Linked DNA regions of Homo sapiens. The protein of the gene in region 1 interacts with the protein of each later gene in a biochemical or structural test. Each region holds a gene or a part of one and is shown on either strand. Other genes may lie near its edges.

Region 1 (7,025 bases):
TTCTTCATCCACCTCTGGACATGTCTAGGGGAGTCAGGGGGCAGCAGTGAGTCAGGCGCCCCACTATCGAACCTTCCATCTCACCCTGCCAACCGCCCCCCGCCCTGCCCCCAGGCCTTGACTCAGACCTCAAAACCAACCCTGATGGCAACGACTGTCTTCCCTGGGTGTGTGGGCAGGTTCCTGGGACAAACTGAGCTTCGGCAGGGACATTATTCACACCCACGTAGTCCATGGGACTTTGCAGCTGAGGTGGGATATGAACCCAGCCCCCAGGCTCCAGCCCGCCCCTCAATCTCGGCTCTTTAGTTTCCAGTAGGGATCGGGACTCTAGGAGCCAAGAGTGGGATCAAACTCCTTCCACTTGTAGCCCAGCCTGACCCCTCCCACATCACTCACCCCTGAATCGGGCTCCAGGAAATCTCTGGGGATGGAGGAAGAGATGTTGGTGTCAGCTTCCGCAGCCCATCTGGTGCCCCCTGTCAGCCCCCAACACTGGACATGGAAGCTGGGGCAGCTCCCAGACTGTGATACTGCCCTGAGCTAGCCCTAGAGGCGGTGGGACCATGGGGCTTGCTTGGGGAGGGGGTTGAATCTGAAGTTAGCTGAGTAGAGAGTGTTCTCAAACAGCCTGGGAGGGAAGGAATCCTGGAACTCATTTGAAGGGCTGCCTTGTGAAGATAGGGAAAGTCGGGGCTAGCCTTGGCAAACAGAACAATCCTGGGCCAGCTTGGGCAGGGAAGATGCTACGTTACTCTGGGACAGGCAATTCCTGGCCTAACCTAGCAAAAGGAAGAATTCTGGACTAGCTTGGGCAGCGGTAATATTGAGCTAGCCGGGGGCAGAGGTACTCCTGGTCTAGCTCAGGTAGAGGGAATCCTGGTCCAGCCTGGAATATGGATACTCCTGGGCTATCCTAGGAGGGGACTTCTGGGATAGCCTGGGCAGGGGAGGGGATCTCGGTCTAGCCTGGGCCAGACCGGGCAGGGGTGCTTCCTCACACAGCTGCAGGTGGCTCTGGCTCCCGCTCCCGCCGGCTTAGTCCTGGAAGGCGAAAGGCCTTGGCTCCCCGCAAACGTTTCATCGCTGAGGATAGATTGGGGGGCACCTGAGCACTGTGAGCCTCCTTTCACATTCAGATCAGCCTCCCTCACCCCCATGGTCCAGCCTGGGCATCCAGGCCCAGACGTACTTGCCTTCCTGCAGGGCAGCCGCACTGTATGCCTCGAAGTCCAGAGGTCCTGAGACAGGAGACGGAAACTCAATTGAGGGGCTGGGCACGGTGGCCCATGCCTGTAATCCCAGCACTTTGGGAGGCTAAGGCGGGCGGATCACCTGAGGTCAGGAGTTCAAGACCAGCCTGGCCACCATGGTGAAACCCTGTCTCTGCTAAAATTACAAAAAAGCCGGACATGGTGGCAGGCGCCTGTAATCCCAGCTACTGGGGAGGCTGAGGCAGGAGAATCGCTTGAACCCAGGAGGCGGAGGTTGCAGTGAGCCGAGACTGCACCACTGCACTCCAGCCTGGGTGACAGAGCAAGACTCTGCCTCAAAAAAATTAAAAAAAAAAAAAAAAGAGAGAGAGAGAGAGAAAGAAACTAAATTGAGGGTGGGGAGACTGCGCTTGGAAAGGGTAGTACACTTTTGGCCACAAAATGGCACCTGGATCTGAACTCAAGGTCCATCAGGTTCCCGGACAAGAACCAGCCCCACATCATCAGAAGTGGGATGGACCAAGGGGCTGGTCTGGTTCCAGCAGGGCAGTGCCACCGCAGGGGGTGACATGAGCTACTTCTACATACTTCCAGCATTTGTGGCTGGAACTTGGGTTGGGTCGGGGAATGGACCATGCGTCTGTGCAGTGGGCTGGGCTTTGAGTGACAGGATAAGGAGTGGGAACTCTCTCCCAAGAACAATGGGGAGCCATGGAAGGTGTGTGAGCAGGAGGAGGACAAAACAGATCTGGGGCCTGTGAAGGGCAAGAGTGGGGCCCCATGCAGGGAGGGGAGACCTGAGCCAGGCCTGAGCCAGAGCGACAGGAGGGAGAAAGAACAGGTTTTGCTAGTTAACAAGACTTGAGGACGTAACTGTATACCAGCATTTAGTGAGTGCCTACTGTGTGCCTGGCACACCCTTTGCCCTTTACCTGCATGAAATCACTGAATGTTGCAACATTATTACATCCTCACTTTACAGATGAGGAAACTGAGGCTCAGAGAAGTCAAAGCACAGGTCCTAGGTCACACAGCAAGCGATGAAGAAAAGACTCAAACCCACGTCTCACTCTAAAACTTTTGCTCTTAACTCCTTCCCAGTCCTGCATCTGCGCATTCCCAAATTGTTCTTTTGCTCAACAACCCTCAATGGCTCCCTTAGGCCCTGGGGGTGAAGTCTGATCAGCCAAGCCTGGCATTCAAGGCTCCTCTGGGATCTGGTTCAAAGACATTTACACATAAGATCAGGCTGGAGAGCTGGACTTGTCAGCAGCCCATTTTTCCCATGAAGAAACCAAGGCCTGGCCATGTGCAGTGGCTCACGCCTGTAATCCCAGCACTTTGGGAGGCCGAGGCAGGCAGATCACCTGAGGTCAAGAGTTCGAGACCAGCCTGGCCAACATGGTGAAACCTCGTCTCTATTAAAAATAAAAAAATAAAAAAAAAATTAGCTGGGCATGGTGGCACATGCCTGTCTGCAGCTGTGGCCCCGAAGCCCGACCCCCAATGGCTGCCCTGACTCACCAGGCTTCTCCCGGCCTGTGCCCTTACTCTCTGCAAACTTCCTGAGTAGCATCTCCACGCTGACGTTCTCGATGTTCTGCTTAAATTCCTCATGCACCTGTGCCGGGTGGGCGGGGTGTGTAACTGGTCAAGGCCCCTTTGCCCAGCAGTGACCCCAGCCTCATTCCTCACACCTGCCCAACTCACCTGCCCAATCTGCACGTGCGTGTCCTCCACCGAGTGAGCATATGAGCCCAGCAGTGCCTTCATGTGCCTCAGGTGTGTCTCCTCCATGGCTTGGAAGCGCTGAAGCAGGAGGGCAGAGGCAGGTGGAAAGGAGGTCAGGGCCAAGAAGAAGTGGCCATATGACTCAGCCTGACCAATCAGAATACCCTAAGCCCTTGGCTCAGTGATTGATTTGGGGAAGGGCCAATGAGAGTCTGCCCTAGGACTTTCATTGACTCTACAGGAAAAGGCACTTCCATTCCTGAGCCAATGTGCTGATGGGATGTAAGTGGGGGTTGCTGGTGCCCAGTTTGATGCACACATGTGCATGCTTGCACACACATGCACACACACACACACACAAGGGGATGTCTGTGTGGGAGTGATGTCCCCAGAGAGAAAAACAGACTTAAGAAGCAGAAATAGTGGTCAGCTGTGGTGTATCATGCCTGTAATCCCAGCACTTTGGGAGGCCAAGGCAGGTGGATCATCTGAGGTCAGGAATTCAAGACCAGTCTGGGCAACATGGTGAAACCGTTTCTACTAAAAATACAAAAATTAGCTGGGTGTGGTGGCACGTGCCTGTAATCCCAACTACTAGGGAGGCTGAGGCAGGAGAATCACTTGAGCCCAGGAGGCGGAGGTTGCAGTGAGCTGAGATCACGCCACTGCACTCCAGCCTGAGTGACAGAGAGATCCCATCTCAAAAAAATAAAAGAAGCAGAAATTCACAATTTCCTGCCAGCACTATTTGAGCACATGGATTCAGCTATGACTGAAACCTCCACAACTCAAAAATAAAACTTTACAGTTCCCTGAGCTTGTCAGTTTTTTTAAATTTTATTTTTTATTTTATTTTTTATTTTTTTGAGACAGAGTCTCGCTCTGTCGCCCAGGCTGGAGTGCAGTGGCGCAATCTCGGCTCACTGCAAGCTCCGCCTCCTGGGTTCTCGCCATTCTCCGGCCTCAGCCTCCTGAGCAGCTGGGACTACAGGCACCCACCACCACGCCCGGCTAATTTTTTTGTATTTTTAGTAGAGAGGGGGTTTCACCGTGTTAGCCAGGATAGTCTCGATCTCCTGACCTCGTGATCCACCTGCCTCGGCCTCCCAAAGTGCTGGGATTACAGGCATGAGCCACCGCGCCCAGCCTTTTTCTTTTCTTTTCTTTTTTTTTTTTATATACACCTGTCGGTTTGAATGAAGGCTTCTATCACTTGTAACTTGAAAAAAGTTCTGATTCCTAATCCTCAGATTCCAATCTGCTTGAATTTATTTTATTTTTTCGAGACAGGGTTCCACTCTATCACCTAACCTGGAGTACAATGGCTCGATCTTGGCTCACTGCAACCTCCGCCTTCTGGTTCAAGTGATTCTCCCGCCTCAGCCTCCTGAGTAGCTGGGATTACAGGCACCTGCCACTACGCCCGGCTAATTTTGTATTTTTAGTAGAGACAGGCTTTCGCCATGTTGGCCAGGCTGGTCTCAAACTCCTGACCTCAGGTGATCCTCCCGCCTCGGCCTCCCAAAGTGCTGGGATTACAGGTGTGAGCCACCACACCCTGCCTGGGATTTCTGCAGTCCATAACCTCCAGGGCAAAGGCATGTGTGGGTCTTAAAGGTACAGATGCCTGGTTCTTACCAGGGCTGAGTCCAGCATCTTCTGCTCAAAGTCAGCTCGGGCTGAGTTGTATTTTTCCACTGAGCGCCGCAGGCTCTCTGCCGCCTTCTTGGTTTTAGTCTCCGCCTACAAAGCACAGGGAGGAAACGGGGATGGGAGGGCGATACTCAGGGGGCCTCCCCCAGGCCCCATCACCTGGCAGGTGAACTCCTCGGGGTACCCAGGGTGTGATCACCCACAGGTTCCAGGACCGTCGCTCTGGGATGTGTTTCCACTCTCTGATCAGGCAGCCCCTCCGCCCCGCGGCAAATTCCTCAGAACCCCCCCACTGTGAGCCCACCTTGTCCATCTCCTTCTGGCTGGTACTCTCCCTCCGCAGCCGCTCCTGGTCCATGCAACGGTTCAGGTAGTTCTCGCGGGACTTGGGCAGGAGCTGGCTGACGCCCGAGAGTACCTGCACAGCATCCAAGGTGCTCACCACTTCCTCCTTGCACTGCGGGGTAGGAGGGGATTTCATGGGTAGACTGTGAAATTCCTGACCTCCCAAACACTCCACGTGATGTCAGCTCCACAGTCTTTTTCTATGTGTGTGTGTGTGTTTTGGTTTGGTTTTTTTTAGACAGAGTTTCGCTCTTGTTGTCCAGGCTGGAGTGCAGTGGCACGATCTCGACTCACTGCAATCTCTGCCTCCCGGTTTCAAGCAATTCTCCTGCCTCAGCCTCCCAAGTAGCTGAGATTACAGGTGCTCACCATCACACCCAGATAATTTTTTGTATTTTTAGTGGAGACGGGGTTTCACCATGTTGGCCAGGCTGGTCTCTAACTCCTGACCTCAGGTGATCTGCCCACCTTGGCCTCCCAAAGTGCTGGCATTACAGGTGTGAGCCACCACGCCCGGCCTCTGTGTGTGTGTTTTAATAGCAATGGGGTCTTGCTATGTTGCCCAGGCTGGTCTCAAACTCCTACACTCAAGCAATCCACCTGCCTCAGCCTCCCAAAGTGTTGGGATTACAGGTGTGAGCCACTACGCCCGGCCTGTACGTTTTTCATTTCAAAACATTTTTAACTTTAAAAAAAAGTACTATTTACACATGGTTCATATTTCAGAAAGTTGTAAGAGGTAAGCCAGGAAAAAGCCTCCCATATATGGGCCCTCCAGCCTAGAAGTCCCCAATTATTACTGTGATACTTCTCTAGAAATAATCCGCATATGGATAAAGATGCTTGTTCTAACCCAAGTTTTATGACAAACAGTGGCAGACTGTGTTGCTTAACTCACCGTTTTGTGTGTGTGTGTGTGTGTGTGTGTGTGTGTGTGTGTGTGTGTGTGTGTGTGTTTGAGACGAAGTCTCGCTGTGTCACCCAGGCTGGAGTGCAGTGGCGCGATCTTGGCTCACTGCAAGCTCCGCCTCCCGGGTTCACGCCATTCTCCTGCCTCAGCCTCCTGAGTAGCTGAGACTACAGGCGCCGCCACCACGCCCGGCTAATTTTTCTTTTGTATTTTTAGTAGAGACGGGGTTTCACCGTGTTAGTCAGGATGGTCTCGATCTCCTGACCTCGTGATCTGCCTGCCTCGGACTCCCAAAGTGCTGGGATTACAGGCTTGAGCCACCGTGCCAGGCCTTTTTTTTTTTTTTTTTTTTGAGGCGGAGTCTTGCTCTTTCACCCAGGCTGGAGTGCAGTGGCACAATCTCAGCTCCCTGCAACCTCCGCCTCCCGGGTTTAAGCGATTCTCCTGCCTCAGCCTCCCAAGTAGCTGGGATTACAAGCATGCACCACCATGCCCGGCTAATTTTGTATTTTTAGTAGAGACAGGGTTTCACCATTTTGGCCAGGCTGGTCTTGAACTCCCGACTTCAGGTGATCTGCCCGCCTCAGCCTCCCAAAGTGCTGGGATTACAGACATAAGTCACTGTGCCCAGCTTTTTTTTTTAAGAGATGGGGTCTCACTGTGTTGCCCAAACTGGTCTCTAACTCTTAGGCTCAAGCAATTCTCACACCTCAGCTCAGCCTCCCAAGTAGCTGGGACTACAGGCATGCACACCACGCCTGGCCTGCTTTTACCACTTAAAAATTCACTCCTGGCCAGGCACAGTGACCCATGCCTGTAATGCCAACATTTTGGAAGGCTGAGGCAGATATGTTAGATGTTTGACCAGCCTGGGCAACACAGCAGGACCCCTTCTCTCTCTCCTTTTTTTTTTTTTTGCCTTGTTTTGTTTTTGAGACAGAGTCTCACTCTGTTGCCCGGGCTGGAGTGGTGTGTCGCGATCTCAACTGACTGCAACCTCCACCTCCCAGGCTCAAGTCATTCTCCTGTCTCAGCCTCCTGAGTAGCTGGGATTACAGGTGTGTGTGCCACCACGTCTGGCTAATTTTTGTGTTTTTAGTATAGACAGGGTTTCACCATGTTGGCCAGGCTGGTCTGGAACTCCTGACTTCAAGTGATATGCCTGCCTCAAC
Region 2 (7,303 bases), on another chromosome or scaffold:
CAAACTCCTCTAGCAGAAATAAGTTCCAGGTTTTGTCTCCAAGGTCAAAGAATTGTTAACTATTTTTGTTCATGAGTATATATATCCTCAGTACCTAGAGTAATTCCTAGCACATACTGAATGCTCAGCAAATGTTTGTTGAGTCTCTTTTAAAGTTAAGAAAACTGAGGCCTGGATATTTAACCCAAACCCATACAGTTAGCTGTGGCCAAAGCAGAACTGGAACTAACATTTTGGTACTCTAGCATTCTATCATCTCTAGAAGCTAGACTATAATAATTTAGATAATTTATTTTGGTGGCTGGGGAGTTGAAGGGTTGGTTGGCAAGCTTGGAAAAAGGAAGGAAGGCATAAGCTAAAACATTTTTCACATTTTTTCCCCAAACTCAGTTTTGCTTAATTGGTAAAGGCAAGAAATTATAAACACGATAATCCCAGTACAATGTCTAGTACATAATAGGTACTATAAAAATATTTGCTGAATGAAAATCATCAACATATGAACAGAAGCAGAAATTAACTTGAGCATGTTTAATCTCCATAACTGTTATAGAACCCTTTAGAGCTTTCAGTCATTCCTACAACAGTTATTAATTACTTTCTTCCAGATAGGTACCATGGGAGAAAGATGGATTAAAAGATGTCCCTGCCCTGAATGAGCTCTCACTTGAGTATGCCTATGTCTAAATGTGTGTGCTGGGAGAGTGGGCAGGGTGGGGGGAACAGAGGATGACAAACGGGTCAGTAATGAATGTGAAACCAGGCTGCATTGTTATCTTAGTGTATTGGGCTCAGGCAGTTATAAAAAAATTAAATTAAATTTAAAAACCACAAATCTGCAAAGTTTTGAAGTAACAAGGAGGCACATTAGGGTATACTAGCAACTGGAAATGTTATTTTTTCGTGTGCCTTCGTAATCCCTCTTATTGCCTCTTCATGTTTTAAAATCAGAATATTCTGAATTTACTTATTTGAATTATCAATAAAAATTAACCACCAATGTATATTATCTCATATGTGAGGCACTGAAGGATAATAGCTACTACTGATTCCGTACTTACTGTGTACACATTAATACCTAAATATATAACCCAAGAACATATGTAAATTTTTTAAATGGCTATAAAACTGACAGAGCTTGAAGCAATTCTCCAGAGATGAATGATGTAAATAGAAGCTAAAAACATGGTATTACCCAGGGAGAGAATAAAGTATGCACACAACTGAGAAGCAATTTTACGGAAGTCTTTAAGAGCACAAAATCTTCAAGGGAAAACTCCTGCCAGAATTGGCCAACAGAGCCAGAAAACAACAGCCTGCCAACAGGGATCTTGTTTAATGCAAGTCACTAACTAGACTCACAGAAAGTGAATACCTAAAAGTCAGTGCTGTAGTTGTTCAAATTTGAGTTTTGGGAGGACCCTTCCAAACATACATAACCAAGACTAAACCACCACATTCCATGTTAAAGGGTTCTCTGCTTGTCAGAACAGGACAACCACCACCACCATCAAAAAAACTGGGAAATAGACTTTCCTTATGACACTTAGAATTCCTGCAAACACGGGTTAGTTATTTTACATGAAGCATGTACGTGACTCCTGGTTTCTGAGAAAACATTTTTTTCTCTCTATCCTACAGTGCTAGGCAAAGCACCCCAAAGCCTCTTGATTTTAAACACAGAAAACTCCACTGCCGAAATGTTTGCCCTATCCCAGCGCTAAAGCCTTAGAAGCACCGACGAATCTAGGCCAAGGAGTACAAGATGGCAGTGAGATACCACAATGCAGGCAAGGAAGACGGGATGGGCCCCAATCGGGAAGCACGCGCCACCAGCTCTGGAGAGAACCGTCTGAGGAGACGCGGGGGAGAGTTTGGGTCACAGGAGCAGGAAGGAACTGGCAGGTGTCTGTCACCTTATCATCCCGGACACCATGTTTACATTGTAATTGGCTTCTTTACAGAGAGGGAGGGACCAGGTTCCCAGTGTGAGTGATGTTTAGAGGTTTTCTGAGAAGCACAAGGACTGGACTTTGACAGGAAGCAACGAGGCAAGAGGGAAGCTCGAGAACAGGTTTTGCTGAGGATTCCCCCCAAGAAAAGTGCTCCCCGGGAGGCCGTTCCTGGCACCAAGACTGGCGGAGCCACCACACCCGTTAAAGGGATCCACCTGGACAGCGATCAGGCGTGAGCCCCCCGAGGGGAAGTTGAAGTGGAAGCAGACGTGGGTGGCAAAAGGCTGCATTGGGGGTCTGACCCAGAAGGAAACCTGATCAGGAGGGGGGAGAGGCTGAACGGAGGAAGGGGCCGGCAGAGTGGGTAGTTGAGTAGGATGAGACTTCTTTGGAGGCGAGGCTAACTACATTAAACTCTGGGAAGGGAGGGCTTCCGTCGGACCCTGGGAGAAAGGCAGGTCTGGAGAGGAAAGACTGGCTTGGGGGGCCTGCGCGTCCGGCTCTGGAAGGCAACTCCTACTGGGGGCGGCGCGCAGCCGGCCTGGCGGGCGAGCCTCGTGCGGCCCGGGGGTGCGGCCGGCCCGCGCGAGCTCAACAGGAGCTCACCTGGGATGCGTGCGGCCCTGTGGGAGGAAACTTCCTGGGTAGGTGAAAGCTGCCCCGCGGGAGCCGGCCCGGCACCGGCAGAGCGCGGCCGGGTCACAGTCCACTCGGCAGCGGCGCGGAGGGCGGCGAGGGCCGCGCGGGGCGGGGCAGGAGGCGCCCGACGACCCTGGGCGAGGTCGCGGCGGCCGCAGGGGGGCTCCGGCTCCGGAGGGCGCCCTCCCGCAGTCGCACCCGCTTTCCCTCACACACACCGGCCGCCCGGCCCACAAGCCAAGAAGCTGCCTGCTTGGCCCACAAGCCAAGAAGTCGGCGAAGCTGAGGGCGGTGGGGGAGGGGGCACCGGCCGGCCAAGCCCGGCGGACGGGCGTGTGGCGTTACCTGTGTCAGAGAGAGCTGGGCCGCCGCAGCCATGGTGTTTCCATCATGCAAGGGAGGGGAAGGAAGACGGGCTGACTGGGGCTCGGGGCGGGGAGGAGGCGGAGGGAGCGGCCGCAGGCGAGGCCGGGGCGGGCGGGCGGGCGTCTCCCCTAACTTCCACAACTTCCCTCCCCACGCCCGCCCCGCCCCGCCTGGCCCCGCCCGCCTGCCCGCCCGCCGGAGCCGGCCGCGGCGCCGCCCAAACCCTGGCGCCGGAGTCTCGGCCACCGGACCAGAGCCTGCCCCCGGGGCCGCCTTGGAAAACCCGGCGCGGACATAAAATTAAAGCGGACGGGCTGCGGAGGCGACTGCAGATTGACCTGTGAACTTCAGACAGGCCACCTACCTACGCTGAGCTCCTGCTTCTGAAAAATGGGGGAAATTGTAACTAGAGGCCCAGTTACTTACAAAGACTAAATGAGATAATGATAGAAAATAATAATGGCACTTTATATATGCCAGGCTCTGTACTAGACTCTTATTTTTTGAATTGTATGAATGAAGGAACTGAAACACAAATAAGTGTCTTACTAAGGTCATACAGCTAATTATATAGCTGAATTAGAATCCAAGTCTAACTGTAAATATTTAACCATCTGCTAGTATATTGGAAAAGAAGACATTAAGTCATTCCCTCCCACAGCCAAAATCCATTTGGAAAGGGGAAGCAAAAATGTATTTGCCTGGTGCCTGTCACATTTAGATTGTTTAACAAGGGAACGCTGGTGCCTGTAGCACTCCTAGCTTCTCCCATCATCCACTTAGCAAACTCCTCCTTCTTTCTCAGGACATAATTCAAGTTTCACCTCCTTTGCAAAGTATCTTTTTCTCTTCCTTATGTCAGAGTTACACACTCTCCTTTATAACCTTTCTTCTCTACCTTGTGAAGTCATCACCCTAATGACAGTTTACACCTATCTATCCCTCTAGATTAAGAGCTCCTCAATGGCAAGAACTGTTTTCAATATATTTCTATATCGTCAGACCCTAGCATTACAGTGCATGCTCAGTAAAGGCCTTCGTTCCTGCCTATATTAAACATAACACATCCTACACCTTCTGATGCTGCCAACCTTCAGTTGGAATACCCAGTTACTTGAAATTCATCTTCAAAGTCTCAGAGTATATACCACCTACTTCAAGAAGCCTTCTAGGAACTCCACACCCCACCTCTAAGTTGTTCTGATGTGACCGTTTTTATACTCTGCCTTATCTGTAAGCGTTAGTTGAGGGTTTGTCTCCACCTCACTGCACTGTAAAATCCTTGAGGACAAGGGGCTGACTCACTGCTTTATCTCCCTCATAGTTTAGCCTACCACAGAGGCCTCAATAAATGTATTTGCCCGAATTGGTCTTAATTTCTTAGTCACGATGGCTTCCCATTACAACAAACCACAACTCTATCAGGCCTACACCCATTACCATTATCATAGCAGTCCCCGTGGTAGGAGGGACAACTGAACAAGACCCAGGATGGAGTTAGCCCCACCTAAGTTTTTAGACTATTGCCTCCACAAGCAAACCATTCCAGAAATTTCCCAAGGAACTCCTAATTCTACTCAGACTCCTTCTGGCAAAGGCCAGCTAACAAGAGCAAGCCATATAGGTCTGGTGAGTAACCACTTATTCAAGAGCATCTTCCTTGGCTTCTTTTTTGCTGCTAATCTCTTTAACTGAAGAGAGAATAAGAGATACTGTTTTACATTACTTCACTTTGGTACACTTATCAGCCATAACCACAACCGGTGTTTCTACCGGTGTTTTCTACTTTATATTAGCACATTTGAGCTTCACAACTCTAAAAGGAAGTAATCGTCATACTCACTTTACAAATGAGGTAATGCAGGGTCACAGAGGCTAAGTGATTTGCCCAGGGTTATACAACTGATAGACAAAGCAGCATAGTATAGTGAAATAAATAGGACTCAGACATTAGGAATATCCAGGTTCCATTCCTGGCTCTCCCATTCACTAGTTGTATGCCCTTAGGGTTGTTGTGAGGATGAATGAGATGACATATACAAAAGTGCCTAAACTTGTAGCTACACAAATTATGAAATCTGAAAATCATGGAGCAAATCGCTTTGGGGAGTATAATTTCACTTGCTATTCAAGGGGACTCCTCCAAACCATATGAGATGTAAGATATTCCTCTCAGATGAATAAGGTGGAAACCCTGCCATGTAGTTTCCGGAAAGGCAGTGCAGAGTAGCAAAGAGAATATTAAGAATCAGAGTGTGACCGCAGGCAAACCATTTAACCTCTTTGAGCTTCAGTTTCTCATACAGGAAAAGTAAGGAATTATTACTGTTTTAACTTTTATATGATTTATATTAAGTCAAAAGCACACCTTACCCAGGCATGGTGGCACATGCCTATAGTCCCAGCTACACAGGAGACTGAGGCAGTTGCACAGAGCACGAATTCAGCCTGAGCAACATAGAGAGACCCCATCTCTAATAAATAAATAACACCTTGTATGTATACAGTATTGCTTTTCACCGTTTATAAATGTTTTTATTTTATTTTTATTTTTTTGAGACAAGGTCTCACTCTGTCACCCAGGCTGGAGTGCAACGGTGCAATCTCGGCTCACTGCAACCTCCACCTCCTGGGTTCAAGCGATTCTTGTGCCTCAGCCTCCTGAGTAGCTAGGATTACAGGCACCCGCCACCACACCAGCTAATTTTTTTTTTTCTAGTAGAGACAGGGTTTCACCGTGTTGGCCAGGCTGGTCTCGAACTCCTGACCTCAAGTGATCTGCCTGCCTCGGCTTCCCAAAGTGCTGGGATTACAGGCGTGAGCCACCGTGCCCGGCCAAATGTTTAGAAGCACAACTTCTAATGTTCAGTAAGTACATTATAAAAGTTTGTTGAATTGAACTGAATACAATCTCATATATAATTGTTATTTGGATCTTCACTTTATCCCCATAAGAAAATCAAGGAACAAATATTTTATAAATTTATTTTATAAATAGCTTCTATAAGTAAGAGCCATTGACAGCAGGCTTGGGTCTTGGTTAACAAAAAATAAAAAGAATCAGATGCCCTAGCAAGGGAAGACTTGCTTAAAATCTTTATATGGGAATTGCCCCACGTCCCCTTCCAGACCACTAGTAATTTGTAGTGGCTTCTTTCTTCATTCGTAGGTTCTGGTTTAAATTAATGACATGTAATGGGAGATGGGAGCATGTCTATAGGGAAGAGAATAATGGGCCAAATTCCCAAAAAAGGCCTAGAACTTCTGAGAGAGGTGTTTTTGTTTGTTTGTTTGTTTGTTTGTTTTAATGACAAACCAATGACAATTTGCAAATGTGTGGCCCAGATCTCGTCAGAGCACTGGGTCATATCCCAAATCTATTTTAGGAGAGGAAAAATGTAGCCAATCGAATATATGTTATAATCTAATTCATTATAACAAGAATGAGTTGCATGGAGCAGACAAGAAGAATTTATCTGTTTTTTCTAGGACAACTTAATGTCTCTGGGTCACTAAGCCTCATTTTCCTCATGATTACATTGAAGATAATAATATCTACTTTGTATGGATGGTTTAAGGATTAGAGCTCATGTATAATGGCCTATCAGAGAGACTGGCCTGGAATAGATGTTCAATAAGTAGCAGCTATAAGATACCATTCTTCAAGATCACCATTTAACTCTCTACCCTTCAGGCAACCCTCCAACAACTAAGTTGGTTTGACAGATATATTAGTTACATGAATGGGTCTGCCAGACCAGACCAGGTGGCTCACATTTGTAATTTTAGCACTCTGGAAGGCCGAGGCAGGAGGATTGCATGAGCCCAGGAGTTCAAGACCAGCCTGGGCAACATAGTGAGACCTCGTCTCTATTTTTTTAAAATCAATCAAATAAAAATAAATAAATAAATAAGAATAAGGGTGCTTTGAACAACTGACATATCCCTGTCATTGAAAAAGTAGATGTTCCCTAGGTAAACAAAGTTGTATCTGATGACTTAAATCTGAATACTAATAACCAACAATTGCTGTTTTCTTTTTTTTGTTTTATTTATTTATTTATTTTATTTGAGACAGTGTCTTGCTATGTTGCCTAGGCTGGTCTTCAACTCCTGGGCTCAAGTCATCCTCCTGCCTCAGCCTCCCAAAGTGCTGGGATTATAGGTGTGAGCCACCGCACCCAGACAAATTGCTGCTTTAATGTGCATTATTTCATTTATTCCTCAAAACAGCTCTACAAGGGTTATTTTTAATCTTTTTTTTTTAACAGAAGAAGAATTTGTCCAAATTCATAATGACAAAGCTGGGAATTATACACAATTATACACGGGTCTTCTGATTC
Region 3 (7,025 bases), on another chromosome or scaffold:
CTTTATTGTATTACAACAGATAAAATGATTAAGACTAAGAGTTTCCAAATTTATCAGGTTTAGACATCAAGAAAACTTAAGACTCTGTCTTCGCTGCTAAGAAATTTCAAAGTAAATTTGTATAACAAATCAAGTACTTTTGCCATTATGCAAGTGATCACAAGTGAAGACAGTTGATTCTCTGAATAAGCCTGCTCTAGTTCTTCCATTTTATTTCATATAAGAATCAAGAAAGAGCTTAAACTACAAACCAGAGGTTAACTCTTTCTTGAGTAACTGAAAATACAATCTCAACCAAATATGTTTCTTTAAAAATTACCACTACAGGGTATAAAATTAACCTAGTAAGTGACAATACCTAGTGTAAAAATAATGCACAAACAGAATACTGTTTTGGTTAAAATGCAATGCTCTAAAATCTTTCCTTTCAAGAAGTTCTATTTATTGTTTCAAGCAGACTACTATTTGCATTTAGAGCTTCATTTTAAGTTTATGGCCTGAGTTTCTCAGCAGACTTTTTTTTTTTTTTTTTTTTTTGAGATGGAGTCTTGCTCCGTTGCCCAGACTGGAGTGCAGTGGCATGATCTCAACTCACTGTGACCTCTGCCTCCTGGGTTCAAGCCATTCTCCTGCCTCAGCCTCCCAAGTAGCTGGAATTACAGGTGTGCGCCACCATACCCAGCTAATTTTTGTATTTTTAGTAGAGACGGAGTTTCACCATATTGGTCAGGCTGGTCTTGAACTCCCAACCTCAGGTGATCCACCCACCTTGGCCTCCCAAAGTGCTGGGATTACAGGCGTAAGCCACCACACCCAGCCTCAGCAGACATTTTAATGCAATGACTATGAAAAAAAGCTGTGAAACTTCTCCACATGTATAAAAGGAGTTACTTCCATATCATATACATAAAGAAGTAACATAGCAGGCACAGTAGCAATACCAAGGGACACGGTACTGCCTTCTACCAGGAACAGTTCCTCAAATACATACCAGTGGGTTGAAGCTACTAGCACCATTTCTTTTCTAATTGAGTCTCTATATACTGAGAGTTGGGAAACTAAGGGCAATCTAAAATGCACATTGTGGCATTTTGAAAGGTTAAAAGACTGTTTTTGTACTGTAATAATCATTGTCACAGGAAAATTTCTCTAGCCTTTATCAGACTAAATTTATCTCTATACAATTCAAGTGTTAATCCCTCCCATGCCCTACAATATCAGGTTATAAGACCTCACTGGTATTTAATATATGGTCACAGCAACAAAGGCTTAGAATTAACATTAATGTTTGAAATATAAAAGGCCCAGCAAAGTTACGAGGAGAAAAATAAACCAAGTAATACTATGAACATTAATGCATAAGATCTCTTGTATAATGATTATTCTAGACATACTTATGAAACCAATGCTATGGTTCTACTGCATTAGGCACTAGGGCTAGGAGTATGAGGAGCACTAAATTCTTTTTTAGGTTAAATTGTAATAAAAACATGTTATATATGAATCAATATTTTTTCCAAAAGCTGTACCTAGGAAAATACTTACAATTCCATATCCTATCATGCCTGTTGGTGTAGTAGCAGGATAGGCCATTACAGGGGGTGCCTAACATAGTGAAAGGAAAAATGAACAAGAAAGTATAACTCATGTGTGTCAACTGAGTTCAAGGAATTAGTAGCTGTAGTTCCACTAAAAAGAATTGCTAAGACAGCTGTGAGTAAGTGACACTTGTGATCATTAAGAACTGTCGATTAATGGTCAGTGAAAAAAAGTGTTTTGAAATTAGCAGAAAAGCAGACTTATTAGAAGGATAACTATACCACTTAAACTTAGATACAGCAGTGATCTAAGATTTCATCATGCTTTTTACAGCTTTAAAAATCTTTAGATTTAAAAAAGTATCTTAAATAGTTCTAAATAGTTCTAAAATTTAAAGCCTATCACTATCATTAAAAAATGTCTACCCAGAAAAAGTATTATTGAATGTTTTCTTACTTAGGTACCTGATTGCTTTAGCATTCAAAGAAAAAAATGTAAAGATCTCAAATCAATCAATAACCTGATCTTCCAAAAAGTTAGTTTCTAAGGATCTTACTCACTCTTTTCAAAAAACTCCAAAGGTTTCAAACTACTATTGAGTATGACTATTTCTATGAGCCATAGTTCTTATATAGAGTATGTACGTTAGCTTTCTAATTTATTCCAAAAATTATTTAAGAGGAACAATCAATTAGGTCAGTTTATGCTTTCATGTTTAAAAGAACCATCTATCACTATGATGTTTAAGTTCCCCTCTTCCTACTACTTTGATTATCTGTAAACATACAATTTGAGAACAGAATCATTTTAGATATAGTTGCTGTCTTAACAACATTTCCTGTGTGTGTTTCTCATAATGAAAACTGAAATTGAATAAAGGTGAAAGACCAATAACACTGCTAAAACATAAAATAACTGAAATTATATGGCAATTTGAACATATGCATGGAGAAATTAAATGAAATATAACTTTAAAAAAATAACACTAAAGTGAATAGTTATAAGTTTAGTATTCGGGTGAGCGTGTAGGACTTATTGGTCTCTCCCTACTTAAAACCAAGATCTGCAAGAGCAGTAGACAAACTGCCAAGAAGAGCAGAAGCCTGTAAGATTTCATGCAGTTGTTATTTTAAACATTACCACAATCAACATTTCCCTTCATTCAGAAGTCATCAAGTGCATAGTGGCAGCACAGATACACACACAGACACCCAGCCATCTGGCAGCAAATGGCGGAATATTAAGCAAGAAAAAAAATCGGTATTTCCCATGCCACCATCAGAATCAATTCTGCAACACACCCATGAAATCAGTAGATGCTAGGAAGAATTTCTGGCACATTGAAAATCTGAATGTGAAAACAAGTAATAGCTGAAAGGTTATGAGATTCTGCTACAGCAGTGGTTAATAGCATGCCAATTTATTGCAAAAAGGCTCGTTTTTGGTCACTTACGTATTGTGGAAAATGCATGCCATTCTGTTTTTCCCAGGGAGAACAATTACATAATGCAATAACACTGGATTAGAACAAGTACTTACACAACAGAAAATACACAGAGAGCATTTTAGTTCACATGTACATTCACTAACTACCTAAAATCCCTTGTATTTCCAGTATCTAATGAAAGAACATCTATACTAAAACACTATCAAGGTTGACAAGGGAATTGTAGTCTTTGGCCTCATCTCTTTATATAAAAAATAGTTTATTGATTACAAGTACCATTAAAACATCAATTCTATCAACAGTGTCAACAGTGCAAAATTTTGGGCATTGCATAAACAGGGTTGCATCAGATGTCTACCACAGAAAAAAAGCAAGCACTAATTAAAAGAATTTGTAGTATAATATATATTTTAATAAAATTCCAATGAATTTGTGTTAAATTTAAAAAACACTGAAAAACCTTGACAGTGTTTAAGGATTAATAAAAAGGTTAGAAATGTAAAGAAATGTCAAAAGCAGCAGTTTATCTTAAGTAGTGAATCACATTATCAGCCCCAAACATTAGCCATTAAAAAGAAAACTCCATAAAATACATATAAATATTTAAGCAAAATCCTTAGGAGATGATACACATTACCATATATAACACAGCAAGATAAAGACTGTTACCTTATCAACTTAAATACAAATTCTACATGACTAAATACCTACTACATTTTAGTAGTCAGTCTTAAGTGCTATCTATGAACTCCTAATACTTCATATAGATTAATACTAACTTAATATAAGAAAATATTCATTATATTTTAATAGCAGCACTGGTATTTATATCATTCCTCATACATCATCAATGTCATAATTCACACGAGTCCATAAAATCCACTACTCTAAACTCCTACCATACCCTAGTCAGTGAGGTGTGTTATAGTGGGAAGAAGACTGGATTCAGAGTCAAAGAGATGGATTTCAACTTAAATCTGCTTTTCAACTGCTTTGCACTTAGGGAAAAAAAAAATCTTTAGAAGTGGGGTGATACATGCTCCAATTCCCTCAAGACAGCAACATTTACATGTTTAAGATTGTGTATTTGTGTGTATAAAAATCTAAACTACTTAAATGCAAAGTTTTAAAATCAGTGATGATAGGCTGGGCGTGGTAGCTCAGGCCTGTAATCCCAGCACTCTGGGAGGCTGAGGCGGGTGGATCACTTGAGGTCAGCAGTTCAAGACCAGCCTGGCCAACATAATAAAACCCAGTCTCTACTAAAAATTTAAAAATTAGCTGGACCTGGTGGTGGGCACCTGTAATCCCAGCTACTCGGGAGGCTAAGGCAGGAGAATCACTTGAACCTGGGAGGCAGAGGTTGCAGTGAGCTGAGGTCGCGCCACTGCAATGTAGCCTGGGCAAAAGAGCAAGACTCCGTCACAAAAAAAAAAAAAATACAAAATAATAAAATTAGTGATGGCAATGAACACTGTCTGAAAGAAAACAAAAACAACAACAAAAAAACACTGCCTTAAAAAGGTAGCTAAATCTCAATATTACTTTCCATTTATGAAGTCTTAAGCTATATAATAAAATGCACAAATTTTAACAAACATACTATTTTTAGCTCAGTCCTACTAATTTTAACATATCATTAACCCACGGAAAACAGGGCAGTGCTCTGGAAGTGGCTATAAGGACAACCGCAGCCTCTAACAGTAACAGGACAGCTGTCAGTAACGTGTAGCCCGTGTAATCAAAACACAGCTACTAGCCTACTGTCTGGAGAAAGAATGCTTCAAACTTTTCCACAAGGAGTTTTCTTTGACTGACGAAAATTTGTTGGTTGGTAAGATAGAAACTGGCCAAGGACAGGAGAATAGCCACAGAGCTATTCTGGGTCTACCATACCTTACAGTAATTAAAACATACTAAAACCTCTTCATTACTAGATGCTAATTATTTAATTAGAAAATACAGTTAATCCTCATTATTCATGGATTCCATATTTGCAAATTCACCTACATGATAAACTTTGTGACACCAAAAATCAACACTCCTGGTGCTTTCAAGGCCATTCATGCTCATTTGCAGAGGGGCAAAAATTTGACTCATCCAATACAGTTCACCTCCAGCTGAGATGGAACAAAGGACACTCTGCCTTGGTTCAGCTCTCATACCAGACCAGAGGATAGAGAAGGAGGATGGGGAGTCCATCATACTGCAAGAAACTCTGACTCTGGGGCCAGCTGGACAGGGCTAAAATTCCAACTCTGGCACCAGTTAGTGCGACAGCCTTAAGCAAGTCACTTAACACTTCTGAACTTTATTTCCTCTTTCATAAAATAAATAGAATATACTAGAATGAGGTTTTCTAAAAGGACCGTCTATGTGACATATACATATATGCATATATTTCCCCCAGCAAGGGTTCAGTGTTCACTAATTCAGTGTTTGGGGTGACTTAAGTACTTAACTGCCACAAATAATGAGTATCAACTGTGTAAGTTATATGACATATATATAATTGCCAAACACATTGTCATATATATAAATTATATGACAAAACCGAAGCAAGTATAGTTTCTTTACCAATAATGAAATCACAAGATTTTGTATTTTAGAAAAATAAATAAAAAATTTGAGGTCAGTAATATAGAGTAGTGATTAAGGACATATGTTCTATAGTTAGGCTGCCTAGGTTATAAAAATTCAACTCATCATTTAAGATCTCTGTAATCCTGAGCACATTGCTTAATAACTCTGAGCCTCCACTTCCTCATCTGTAAAATAGGGATAATAATAGTGACTAACACATTAATAGGAGGATTATAAAAAATAAAACATTATTATTTACTGGAATATGTCTGGCACAAAGTAACCCTTAAATACTTGTTAGCCACTAAAATGTATCTGGTAAATATAGGCAACCAGCTTCCTTTGAAAGAAATACAATTACTTATACTTCTAAACTCAGTAACAATCCTTCTATTTATGTCTATCACTTTAAAAACATTTTCATGTTACATATTTAACTAAATTATTCAACTGTTAGTCTATCAGGAGCTTTTTCAACTCACCATTGTTGCAGCATTCCAAGCGGTTGTTGGTGCAACCTTTGGTTGCCAGTTAGATCCCCCAGTTAACTTCTTTTCACCTGGTTGACTCCAATTTACATCACTTTAAATAAACATAAGTGAGAATATTAAATGTCTCTAATTATAAAGTTTCCTTAGCTATATACTTATATAGAACAGAGTAAGATAGAGACTTGAGGCTGGGCGTGGTGGCTCATGCCTGTAATCCCAGCACTTTGGGAGGCCAAGGTGGACAAATCACTTGAGGTCAGGAGATTGAGACCAACCTGGCTAACACGGCGAAACCCCGTCTCTACTAAAAATACAAAAAAATTAGCCAGGCATGGTGGTGGGTGCCTGTAGTCCAGCTACTTGAGAGGCTGAGGCAGAAGAACGGCGTGAATCCGGGAGGCGGAGCTTGCAGTGGGCCGAGATTGCGCCACTGTACTCCAGCCTGAGCAACAGAGCGAGACTCCGTGTCAAAAAAAAAAAAAAAAGATGCAGACTTGATATCTCTACACATATTTTTGAGAGGAAAGCCAAATCAACCCTCCAAATAACACATGGAGAAAACACTAAATAACACACGGAGAAAACAATGTGTATATTAAACACTCACTTCTTAGTGGTTCCATTTCCGATGCCAAGATCTAGGAAAGGAGAAAAACAAAAAAGCATTTTATAACACGAGACGCAGTTTAATAAAACAACATAAAAGAAGATTAACGTATCCAAAGACTACTTACTGCCCACAAGGTTGGCTAAAGATGAATCCAAGTCATCAGATACTAACTTGCTAGGTGGGAGTTTGGCAACAGGAAGGTTCTGGTTCTGAGAGGCCACTGTTGGTTTGAGAAGTCCACCTAGTTCATCAAAGCCTTAAAGTTACAAACAGACGAAATAGAATTTGTAAGGAACTTTATGACGCTATGGTTTTCTAAAGGAGGTCTTTGCCTTTTCTCCTTGTTTATTCACTG

The links.
Region 2: the proteins of FCHO1 (region 1) and EPS15 form a complex in vitro, tested with the Homo sapiens proteins (2 studies listed by BioGRID).
Region 3: the proteins of FCHO1 (region 1) and PICALM form a complex in vitro, tested with the Homo sapiens proteins (one study listed by BioGRID).

The regions. Positions count from the first base shown.
Region 1 is NC_000019.10:17,768,455-17,775,479, reverse strand, and holds part of FCHO1 (F-BAR domain only protein 1), read right to left. Parts: intron 5,056-7,025; coding exon 4,903-5,055; intron 4,689-4,902; coding exon 4,584-4,688; intron 3,024-4,583; coding exon 2,925-3,023; intron 2,836-2,924; coding exon 2,739-2,835; intron 1,242-2,738; coding exon 1,197-1,241; exon of another isoform or gene 1,193-1,196; intron 1,087-1,192; coding exon 1,002-1,086; intron 425-1,001; coding exon 400-424; intron 25-399; coding exon 1-24. UniProt on the Homo sapiens protein: Functions in an early step of clathrin-mediated endocytosis. Has both a membrane binding/bending activity and the ability to recruit proteins essential to the formation of functional clathrin-coated pits.
Region 2 is NC_000001.11:51,516,260-51,523,562, forward strand, and holds the start of EPS15 (epidermal growth factor receptor substrate 15), read right to left. Parts: upstream 3,008-7,303; 5' UTR 2,973-3,007; coding exon 2,940-2,972; intron 2,188-2,939; exon of another isoform or gene 2,013-2,187; intron 1-2,012. UniProt on the Homo sapiens protein: Involved in cell growth regulation. May be involved in the regulation of mitogenic signals and control of cell proliferation. Involved in the internalization of ligand-inducible receptors of the receptor tyrosine kinase (RTK) type, in particular EGFR.
Region 3 is NC_000011.10:85,975,078-85,982,102, forward strand, and holds part of PICALM (phosphatidylinositol-binding clathrin assembly protein), read right to left. Parts: intron 6,927-7,025; coding exon 6,795-6,926; intron 6,699-6,794; coding exon 6,668-6,698; intron 6,152-6,667; coding exon 6,052-6,151; intron 3,017-6,051; coding exon of another isoform or gene 2,993-3,016; intron 1,606-2,992; coding exon 1,546-1,605; intron 1-1,545. UniProt on the Homo sapiens protein: Cytoplasmic adapter protein that plays a critical role in clathrin-mediated endocytosis which is important in processes such as internalization of cell receptors, synaptic transmission or removal of apoptotic cells.